3 linked regions of the Homo sapiens genome follow. The protein of the gene in region 2 purifies or fractionates together with the protein of the main gene of each other region. This does not show direct contact. Each region holds a gene or a part of one and is shown on either strand. Other genes may lie near its edges.

Evidence for each region. The genes of interacting proteins can lie anywhere in the genome.
Region 1: the proteins of CSPG4 (region 2) and TSPAN5 purify together in Homo sapiens (co-immunoprecipitation; one large-scale study listed by IntAct). This does not show direct contact.
Region 3: the proteins of CSPG4 (region 2) and CA10 purify together in Homo sapiens (co-immunoprecipitation; one large-scale study listed by IntAct). This does not show direct contact.

The regions. Positions count from the first base shown.
Region 1 is NC_000004.12:98,652,112-98,655,674, reverse strand, and holds part of TSPAN5 (tetraspanin-5), read left to right. Parts: intron 1-3,563. UniProt on the Homo sapiens protein: Part of TspanC8 subgroup, composed of 6 members that interact with the transmembrane metalloprotease ADAM10.
Region 2 is NC_000015.10:75,688,828-75,692,390, forward strand, and holds part of CSPG4 (chondroitin sulfate proteoglycan 4 precursor), read right to left. Parts: intron 1,986-3,563; coding exon 1-1,985. UniProt on the Homo sapiens protein: Proteoglycan playing a role in cell proliferation and migration which stimulates endothelial cells motility during microvascular morphogenesis. May also inhibit neurite outgrowth and growth cone collapse during axon regeneration.
Region 3 is NC_000017.11:51,746,215-51,749,777, reverse strand, and holds part of CA10 (carbonic anhydrase-related protein 10 precursor), read left to right. Parts: intron 1-1,959; coding exon 1,960-2,145; intron 2,146-3,563. UniProt on the Homo sapiens protein: Does not have a catalytic activity.

The DNA of each region.
Region 1 (3,563 bases), on a different chromosome or scaffold from region 2:
CCAAAAACAGCAGACTCGGTGCTACTCCCATACAATTATGAAGAAGAGATTGCCAACAGCATGGTTTCCTAATTTTCATTTTCACACTGAACTGCTAGACTACATTTGACATACACTGGTGACATTCAAAGGTATAGTTCTGGTAAAATAAAATTGAACATATGGTGGCACCAGCACTGAGAGCTTGGTTCTTTTCCTGATCAGCAGTTTGGCTCTTCATCAGTTAACTGCCTGGGCCTCAGTTTCTCAGCTGTTAAATTGAAGGAGGTGGATGAGTTATAACGTTCTTTCTAGTTCTTACACAGAATGAGTTTCTTGAGTTCCAATATGCTGGAGAAGAAAAATAGAAGAGTTTGGCCACTAATTTATAACAGAAGTAGTATATACCAGGACACGTGATAAATTATAGACATTTTCTGTTAGGGAGACTTGTCTGAAGACTAGTTTTATTACTTTCATTTCTTCCTCAAAGATCCTTTCATAAAAAACAAACAAACAAAAAACAAAAAACAAAAACAAAAAAAAACCAAGGCTGGGCGCGGTGGCTCACGCCTGCGATCCCAGCACTTTGGGAGGCTGAGGTGGACGGATCACAAGTTCAGGAAATCAAGACCATCCTGGCCAACATGGTGAAACTCTGTCCCTACTGAAATACAAAAAACTAGCCAGGTGTGTTGGCGGGTGCCTGTAGTCCCAGCTACTCGGGAGGCTGAGGCAGGGGAATCACTTGAACCCGGGAGGTGGAGATTGCAGTGAGGCAAGATCACACCACTGTACTCCAGCCTGGCAACAGAGCAAGACTCCGTCTCAAAAAAAACAAAACAAAGCAAAACAAAAAACCTTTCACTAATTTCTTCTTGGCTTGTTCAGTTCCTGGTATAGTGTCCGTGCTTCTCTCTCCCCACTGTGAATCTCAAATGTAGTCCTGTGAGTCATTAAATATATTTTTATTATTAGAATTACAGCTTCATGTATAAAATCTGAATCCTTTTATATAACAGTTGTAATGACATTCTGAGTAACAAAGTCAACATCTTGTACAGATTCCTTTCTCATTAGTTATCACAGGCTGGTGGGGGAAAACTTGTTTCCTCTGTTATATATTGGAACAATTCAAGACAGAAGGGAATTGATTTTATTGAGGGTGTCACCGTACTGGGACATTTCTCAGAAAACCCTGAGACTGCTTTGGGTTTGGGGGAGGGAGAAGAAAGAGGATTTTGTTTTAAAGTCATTTCTTTGGGGTACCGAACACCACATCCCATCACTCATCATTAATAGATGTTTTGCCCTTTTGGATTCTGGCTTTTAACTGTTTTGGATTCTGGATACTTAACTGTTCCCAGGCAAGTAAATTGATCTCAATATTCTGGTTATTTATTGCTACATAACCTCCAAGCTTAGTTGTTTAAAACACAGTTGTTTATTATTATAGTTCACAGTTCTGTGATTTGGCCAGGCTCATCTGGACAGTTCTCACTTGGGGTCTCATACAGTTGTGGTGAGATGTAGTTGGAGTTGGACTTACCGGAAGGCCCTCTGGGCAGGATGCCTGAGATGGTATACTCATATGACTGGAAGCTGATGCTTGCTGGGAGCTTAGCCAGAGTTGTCACTGGAGCACCTACCTACACGTGGCTTCTTCCTGTCTCTAAGTCTTAAAGAAGCTTCCAGCCAGTTAAGGTTCCACTTAGAACTGGCAGTGCCACTTTTATCTATTCCATTGGTTAGAGCACTCATGCAGACTGCTGAATTTCAAAGGGTGAAGAATTAGAAGCCACCTTTTGATGGAGAAGTGTCAAGGTCACATTGCAGAAAGTCATGTAGGTTGTGGCCATCTTTGAAAAATATAGTCTACTGTATTAAGGCACTGAGCCTTAATTTCTTGTTTATAAAGGAAAGATAACATTAATGGTGTTGTAGTTTTAAAGATTCAGTGAGATAATGTTTTATTCGGCATAATATCTCAATATTTAACAAATAGTGAATATCATTACTGTTGTTGTCTCCAGATTTTATACTGGTTCCATACAGGGCTATAGAACTTCTAGAATGCCTTAGTCTAGTACTTTGGCATCATTACTACTAGGTAATGATAATACCCTTAAGATCTGCCAAGAAGATGAGGCAAATGGATTCAATAGATTTTATAGTGACTTGTTAGGAAAGAACTCAATGGAAACGGTGGAATGATTTGGGAGAACCAAGTCATTTTTCTGTTTTCTTTGCTACAAAGGATTAGAAAAGCCTCAGTTACTTGAGGCCAACTTTCTCTTTTGATATGCTTTCAGATATTACCTTGTGTCTTTAAGTGCAAGTTTATCCAGGGTTGATGGCAGGATCTTGCCTCTAATTTGCTTCCACAGGGCTTAATTCAGAGAGGAGGGAGACTCAGGAAACCTTGGGGCGGTGGGGGAGGGGGGGCATCAAGTAGGAAGCTTTATCTTATGATTCACTATAAATTGCAAGATGTTCTGGAATGATGATACATCAGCAGTTTATAAGTCATAATTTTTGTTTTAATTTGCTAGACATCTGTTAGCTTCGATGGCAACCATATGGGAATCTAAATTGCGTTTTGAATTACAGGGAGATGGTAGGAAGAAAGCTAAATATGGTTATGAAAGTGTCATATGGGAAAAGTGTAAGAAAGGTATAAAGTGGGGAAAGTAATTGAATATAGGCTTGCTTAGTGTGGCCACTCCCTCTGTGGGGCAGTATGAAGGCGCAGAAGCATTCTCACTTGATATACTCCGCAGATTGAAATGAAGCCAAGTGGGGAGAAGTTGGAAAACCAAATCATGTTTCAACCACCATAAACTTGCCAAAATGTTGCACTCATTTAGATGGGTCACTTTGTTTTAATGTCCACAGTAATAGGTAGTCCCTGGCAAAAGGTGAAAGCAATCTGCATTTTTAACAGAACTTTTCACTAATGATGTTTTTCTTGTAAGCACCCCAAAGAGTCTTCCAAGAATATTATATCTTTGTGACAGATGAAGAAATTGGAGTACAGAGATGTGGAGTAACTTTTGAGGTGTTGAAGAGCATGTCAAGGTTCAGTTTCAGAGTGTTAAGTCTCTTCCGTAATGATAGCCCCAGCTTTTTGGGTGGAGACTTATTTTAGAAGATGCTTGTTATTCTAAAATAAAACATCAAGTAAGTCATTTACATCTGTTCATAATCGAAAAGTGATAAAGTTTTTGCATATGCCACAATTAACACCACCCACAAGCACAAAAAAGTTAGGATGAAAATGTTCTTCAAGAATATGGTGGAATAATTGTAGCCTATTGAAAATTCATAAATGAAAATTGGAGTATTGTAGACAGCATTCTTGAATCACATGTTTGTTTCTGTGTGTAATACTGATGACTGTCTTAAAATTTCTAACTTCCAAATAAATCATACTCCACTGGATTATAAGGGCTTCAAGTGTGGGGGCTGTCTCACTTTCATAAGCCCAGTGTCTTGCGCATTGTCTGAAACACAGTAGATGTTTTGATAAACGTTTGGGCCAGGCTTGGGGGCTTACACCTGTAATCCCAACACTTTAGGAGGCT
Region 2 (3,563 bases):
GTGCTCAGGTACCTCACGCGGCCCTGCTCCACATCCCGCTGGTGGAACGCCTGTGTGGCCCACCACTCAGCACCCTCCACCCCACCTGCCCCCTGCTTCTGCAGCTCCCCAAACTGCAGGGCCCCAGTGACGCGGAACAGCACGCTCACATCCTGCCCCACGGCATTGGTCTCCACCGACAGGTTGGCGGGCAAGATGGGCATGGCAGAGCCTTGGGCCAGTCGCAACCCTGTGCTGCGGTGGATCTGTATGGCCGGCCGGATGGCCACCACCTTCAGCGTGGCCGGGGGGCTGGCCTGCAGTCCATCGCTGACCCGGAACGTCAAGTCCTGTGCAGGACCACCGCGGTGGACATAGACTAGGCTGCCGGCCTCCAACTCCCGGCAGGAGAACTCGGTCGCCGGCTCCCCAGGCTGGTCTCGGCGCTCCACGGGGAGGCCAGAGGAGGTGCCAAGGACCTGGAAGGTGAGGCCCTCACAGGCAGAGTCCGGGTCATAGGCCTGGAAAACCTCAGGCCCCAGCGGCTTCTGCGTGTGTTCCAGGATCACCATGAGGCTGCCATGTGGGAAGATGATGTGGGGTGGGTCATTGACAGGGTTGACCTGGATGGGCAGGAGGTATGTTTGGCCCCTCCGAAGGCATGAGGGCATGGGCACCCGAGCCGTCACCGACACCTCCAGCACCAGCTGGTCGGAGGTGTCCTCAGAGCCATCGTGGATGAAGCGGGCCTTGCGGTTCACCACGTCCAGGAGGGTGAACATTTTTCGTGCCTGGGCTCCCGGGATGTCCAGCTCGAGCTCGCCATGGCGTGCCCCTCGGGTCACGCTGAACAGCACCTGGGATTTGCGCAGCTCAGCCTCCATCAGGTCCAGCGTGGGCTGCACATGCCTCCACTCAAGCCAGGCTGTGCCCCCCTCGGCCACCACCAGTGGGCTGATAGTCAGCAGCTGGGTGAAATTGGCAAAGACAGGAGGCAGCCCTGGCTCAGGCACGCATGGCTCAGGCAGCTCCATGGCTGGCCAAGCCTCAGGGGCCAGGGTGGAGAAAGCTTCATAATGTCCATAGGCATCGTCCTCATACTCCTCCTCCTCCAGCCTGCAGCCGGCTGCCATGTTGCGCGTCAGCAAAGCTTCCCGCAGCCCCCGCCTCTGGCCATTGACACTGAGGTCTTCCATGCAGCCCAGCAGGGAGGCATTGGTGGCCTCTGGTGTCAGGCCCAGGCGGTGTTCCTGGAGGTGACGAGAGGCCTCTGCATCCAGCCCCCCGAGAAGGAGACTGCCCCGTGGCTCCAGGTAGCTGAGGACTCCTCGGTTCGAAGTATGCGTAGGGTACTGGTCCACGGAGATTTCCAGCCGGTGAGCATTGATGTGGACACTGACCTCATGGGGCTGCCCATCGGCCACAGGCACACTGTTGTGGAGCAATACGGTACCCTGGCCCTTCTCCACCACGGCCCGCAGGTGGCCCTCAAATATGTCCACATAGATGAAGTCCCCACGCCGGCCCCCTGCCTGGAAGGCCAAGGGTGCCTGCCGGCTCTGTGTGGTGAGTGTAAACTCTAGGGTTCCTTCGTCCTGAGTGCCCCAGGCAGGGAAGGCAGCCAGAGAGTGGGGCCCAGAGAAGCCCAGGGCCACATCATCACTGGCAGAAAACTCTTCAGCACAGCCCTCATGCACATCGGGGGTCAGAGGCCGGAGGAGGCTGCGGCCATTGAGGGTGGCTGCATGGAGGCAACCCCTCAGGGGTCGGCTGGTTCCCCTCAGGTAGGGCAGGCCAAGGGTCCCAGTGCCCCCAACAAAGAGCCCATAGGGGACCTCTAGGGGGGCTCCTGGGACTGCTGAGGAGGCGTTCAGAAACCCATCGACTGACAACGTGGCCCAGCCCTCTACGACAGTCAGCACCACAGTGTGGGGGATGGAGTCACTCAGCAGCGTCTCTGCTGGAGTCTGCAGCCTCAGCTCCTCCTGGCCCAGAACAAGTCTGACCTGAAGAGAGATGGGGAGTGGGAGATAGTGGACAGCACTTTGGATCCATCATTTCCCTTATAAAAGCATAGAGCCGGGCGTGATTGCAGTGGTGGCTCATGCCTGTAATCCTAGCACTTTGGGAGGCCAAGGCAGGCGGATCACCTGAGGTTAGGAGTTTGAGACCAGCCTGGCCAACATGGAGAAACCCTGTCTCTACTAAAAACACAAAATTAGCTGGGCATGGTGGCGCATGCCTGTAATCCCAGCTACTTTGGAGGCTGTGGCAGGAGAATTGCTTGAACTCGGGAGGTGGAGGTTGCAGTGAGCTGAGATCATGCCATTGCACTCCAGCCTGGGCAGCAAGAGCGAAACTCTGTCTCAAAAAACAAACAAAAAAAAAGCATAGTGAGTTCCCCACACTTGGGGCCCCAGAGTGGAAAACCTAGGACAAGAGCCTCTGGTGCCACTCCTCTTGCCGTCCTGCCATCTCTTTATTCATCCTCCAAACACTCACCAAAGGAAACTCTGGGCCAGGGCTGGATGGGCTCTGGGGACCCTGATATGAATCAGATGTGGTCCTCGCCCACAAGGAACTGACATACAGCAAGATGCTCTCCTAGAAATCCAACCTGTGTTTTTAAATTCTTCCCCTCTTTCCTTGAGTGAGAGGTGCCAGAAATATTGTCTTGGAATCTGGATTTCAACTTTGGAATAATGGGTAACTGGGAATCCCTTGATCAGTCCCCTTCAACAGAGCAAAGTTTCTTGGGGTCATTGAAGGCAGCCAGGCTCACTGTTCAGGAATAGGCTAATTTTTAAATTAAAATTTAAATACTCTGTGTTCTGAAAAAAAGCTCCCTGACCTGGGGTGGAAGGAGATCTTGGGGAGAGATGAAGGACATAGTTCTGTCTCCATGACATTGACAGCAGAAATGGCTCTGGTACGGTGCTCCCAGATGGTAGAATGGGAGGTGGCAGAGTATGGTAACTGCAGAACCAGGGCACTAAGAACTATAATTTTGGAGTCCTGGTATGGAGCATCTCTGTAGGGGTGTGGCATCATTGTACCTACAGAACTGGACAGCCATCAGCACCAGCCTGCACCACGCTGGTGTTTAACAGTGAAAGCAGCAGACTGACCAAGCCCTAGTCCTCTCCCCATGGGGTGTGGAAGGAGATGGCTGCCCCAAATTTGTTTTTTTTTGAGACGGAGTTTGGTTCTTGTTGCCCAGGCTGAAGTGCAATGGTGCGGTCTCGGCTCACTGCAACCTCCTTCTCCTGGGTTCAAGTGATTCTCTTGCCTCAGCCTCCTGAGTAGCTGGGATTACAGGCATGTGTCACCATGCCCGGCTAATTTTTTTGTATTTTTATTAGAGACACGGTTTCACCATGTTGGCCAGGCTGGTCTCGAACTCCTGACCTCAGGTGATCCACCCGCCTCAGCCTCCCAAAGTGCTGGGATTACAGGCATGAGCCACCGCGTCCGGTTATTTTTTTCTTTTAAAAATAGAGATGGGGACTCATTGTGTGGCTTAGGCCAGACTTGAACTCCTAGGCTCGAGTGATCTTCTCACCTTGGCCTCCCAAAGTGGTGGG
Region 3 (3,563 bases), on a different chromosome or scaffold from region 2:
CCTCAGTCCTCTCTCTCTGATCTGACTTTCTCTGCTTAACAGTATGGTTGGCACTCAGGCGACCTTGCAGTTCAGGAACTCAACGGAGAGTTTCTGTTGATAGTTCCAGATTTCACAGGAGAAAGAAGATGACTGACTTAGTGTCTATCAGTTCCCTTTTGCTGCATAACAAACCACCCCAAAATTTAGAGACTTAAATAATCATTTAGCTCCAAGCCTATGGGTCAGTGGACATTTCTGACCTGGGCCAGGCTAAGCTGATCTCAGCTGGGCCAGTCAGCTAGTGGATCAGCCACAGAGTAGCCCGTCTAGACGGCCTCTCCTGGGATGGCTCTCCTCACTGTGGCCCCATCCTCCAGCAGGCTAGCCCAGGCTCATTTGCATGGTAGTTTCACGGCTCCACGAAGAAGTGAAGAAAACACGCATGCCCTCAAGGTCTACTCTCAGGACTAGCATGTTGTGTGCAGCACATGCTGTTGGCCAAAGTAAGTGACAAGGCCAGCCCAGACTCGACGTAGAGAAATAGCCTCTTATCTAGATGACAGCAGTTACAAAATTACATTGTTGGGAGTGTAGTTATAGGGAGGGGAAGAATTCCTGTCATTTTTGTAAACTGCACATAATCTCTAGGGGCCTAGGCTGACATGAGCTCCATGCAGTCGCTGCACCACATTGCCATTTCCATATAATGCCATTGGTCGATGTACCAGGGAAAGGTGAGTCTGGGGAATCCACTATTTCAACCTGGAAGTGACACTTGTCATGACCCCTCCCAACCCATGGCCCCTATCAGTCACATGGGCTCCATTCTACAGTAAGGTGGCAGGAAACAAAATGAGTCACTGGAATATTTGGTGAGCATTATGGTCTCTGCCACAGTGAACAACTCAAGAGCTAATCATTCACAACACCAGTGTCAGAAAGGTGGAAAAGAGGCAGGTAAAAGATAGTGCTATAGAGCACATATATGAAAACCACATCTAATGAAGGTGTCAGAAGGTACAGGAAGCCCTTCAGGAATCACTAGGGCTGAAGGCTTGGCCCAAAGTCAGAGTAAGCAGGAAGAAAATCCAAATAGTTCAGCCTCCTGTAACCCAGAAACACTCCTTCCAGACTCATTCAAAGTCTCCCTAAGCTCTAGATCCTACTCCCAGAGCTAAGTCAACCCAAGAGAGTAAGAAAGTAGAGTTTCAGATGGGAATGAGTGTTCTAGAATCAATTGTTGTTGAGGTCACAGTCAGGAAAATGAAGCTGAACATCAAGTCCCAGCAAGAAAAGAAGGAAAAGGAATGCCAAGCAGTCATGTTAGCAGTTTGAAGGGGCTGGAGCAAGATGGAATCAGGAATAAGGAGTAAGTCTAGGAATCTATGAAATTGGAAGTTTGAGTGAATCCCTTTAGTTTACCACTTGAGGCCCACAAGCTATGAGGATTCTGTGCAATGTCTGGTTGCAGGGCAGGACACACCAGATAGGACGCTTGAGAATTCAGACCTAGGCTTTCCATCTCCCATGAGCGTCTGCTTCTAGTCACTCATTTTCTCTTCCCTGTCTCATTTGGCCTTCTTAATATCTCACCCCTTGCTAACTGCTTTCTCCAATTTCTCACAGCTGAGATTTAGAACTCTTGCAGTATCTTTCCATTCCAAATCCTTATAGTAAGAAGGACAAATTCATTTTTTATAAAATACAATGCACAAAATATTAATCACAAATGATGAAAAGTCTCCTTCAAGTTCTTACCTCAAATTCCTAAGCCATCATGTGGTTTATGCCTCACAGAAATTACCATAGATCCCACATATACCCTCTGGGGCAGCTGCCACGCCCTACTCCACATGTGGATTTAGCCCATCTTCCCATCAAGAGGAAGCAAAAGGTGTTGATCCAAGCACCATGCTGGGTTTGGGGAGGCATAGAAGAAGGAGGGCCTTGCTTGACCTGTTGCTAATTGCCTTGCAGGTCAGTGGGACCATGTACAACACTGGAAGACACGTATCCCTTCGCCTGGACAAGGAGCACTTGGTCAACATATCTGGAGGGCCCATGACATACAGCCACCGGCTGGAGGAGATCCGACTACACTTTGGGAGTGAGGACAGCCAAGGGTCGGAGCACCTCCTCAATGGACAGGCCTTCTCTGGGGAGGTATGTTAGTCTGTCAAAGTACTAAGGTTAAATGTCAACTTATAAGATTGGGTGCCTGTTTGTGTCCAAGATGGGATAACATAACAAAGGGATTCGCTCTAATCTATGAAATGAGAAGGCCCATGCCTTCTTTCTCCATCTGTCTTTTGCAAATTGACATCGAAGTCAATAACAAGCTTCTAGTATTTTCCAGGGAAGGCTACAATGAAACTAGCTCTTTCCTTCTGAGACAATGTTGCAGCTCTCTTGAGACTCATGTCCAGTGATATTTCTAGAGCATTATTTCAACCCCAAATCCTCACCTTATATATATAATACATCTTTACTTACACCTATCTGGGCGATCAGCCTCTCACGTGTCACATATGATAGCACAGATTCCATAACTTTTCTTTTGAATATAATGAGTCATATTTGCATAAAACTATAACATACTGTGAAATAAGTGTCAGGCAACTCAATAGTTTTCCTGAGTTTCTGCAAAATGGAAACGTCACTGTGTGCCACCATCAACCCAGACAGAACTCAGGCCACAGCAGAGAGCCCAACCACAGTTTCATTTATAGGACAAGAGCTACAGTTTAAACAGTTGTCATCTGTGGTGTGACACTTCACAAGTAGGGTGTAGGTAATTTGATCTGTTTTACCCCCGTTATACTGGAGGGTGTTTATGAACTAGAGATCAGGGGTCCTTACAGGCTAAATGCCCTGTGACTAGGTTTCTGCTTAAGAGTCCTCAATAACTGATGTTAGGAAGGCTTTGAAATTACAAAAATATGTATTGCATGTGGTGTTTTTATTTTTTTAAAGATCATGTATAAATCTGGCCTTATTTTTAGTGTGTTAAGGCCAAGCACTAAGAAACAGACCCACAATCTTAATGAGTCCAGCAGCCAGATTTTAATGTGCATCCAAAATGTGTCACTAAGAGCCTGCCTAGGCACTCAGCTAGTTACCAGGGATACAGAGATTTAAAAAAAGGGCTCCTACCACAGAGGAGCTCAAAGAGTGCTACATTCAAGTCATTAAAGTATAATGTCATGCTGTAATGGGGATGTACAAAGGCCCTGGCAAACTCAAAGGAAGAAGTGGTAAATTTTGCTTGAAGGGGTCAGGAGAAGCTTCACAGAGAAGGTGCCCCTTGAACTGGGCTGTAAAGAGAGGCAATGATGAACAATTTTAAGACCATCAGCTTTGGAGTCCAGTGACCTGAGTTTTGTAGTCTTGCTTTGATACACACTGTGTGATCTTGGGATGTTACTTGAGCCTTCTAAGGCACAGTTTAGACACCTCCATTTTAAAAATTAAGTGGGATTCCAGATGTAAAAACACTGAAAGTACTCAATGATTGATAAACAACAATGACAAAGCAGGAAATGAGGGCTAGTGCGAGCAAAAGCCCCGAGGCATGTCAGGGC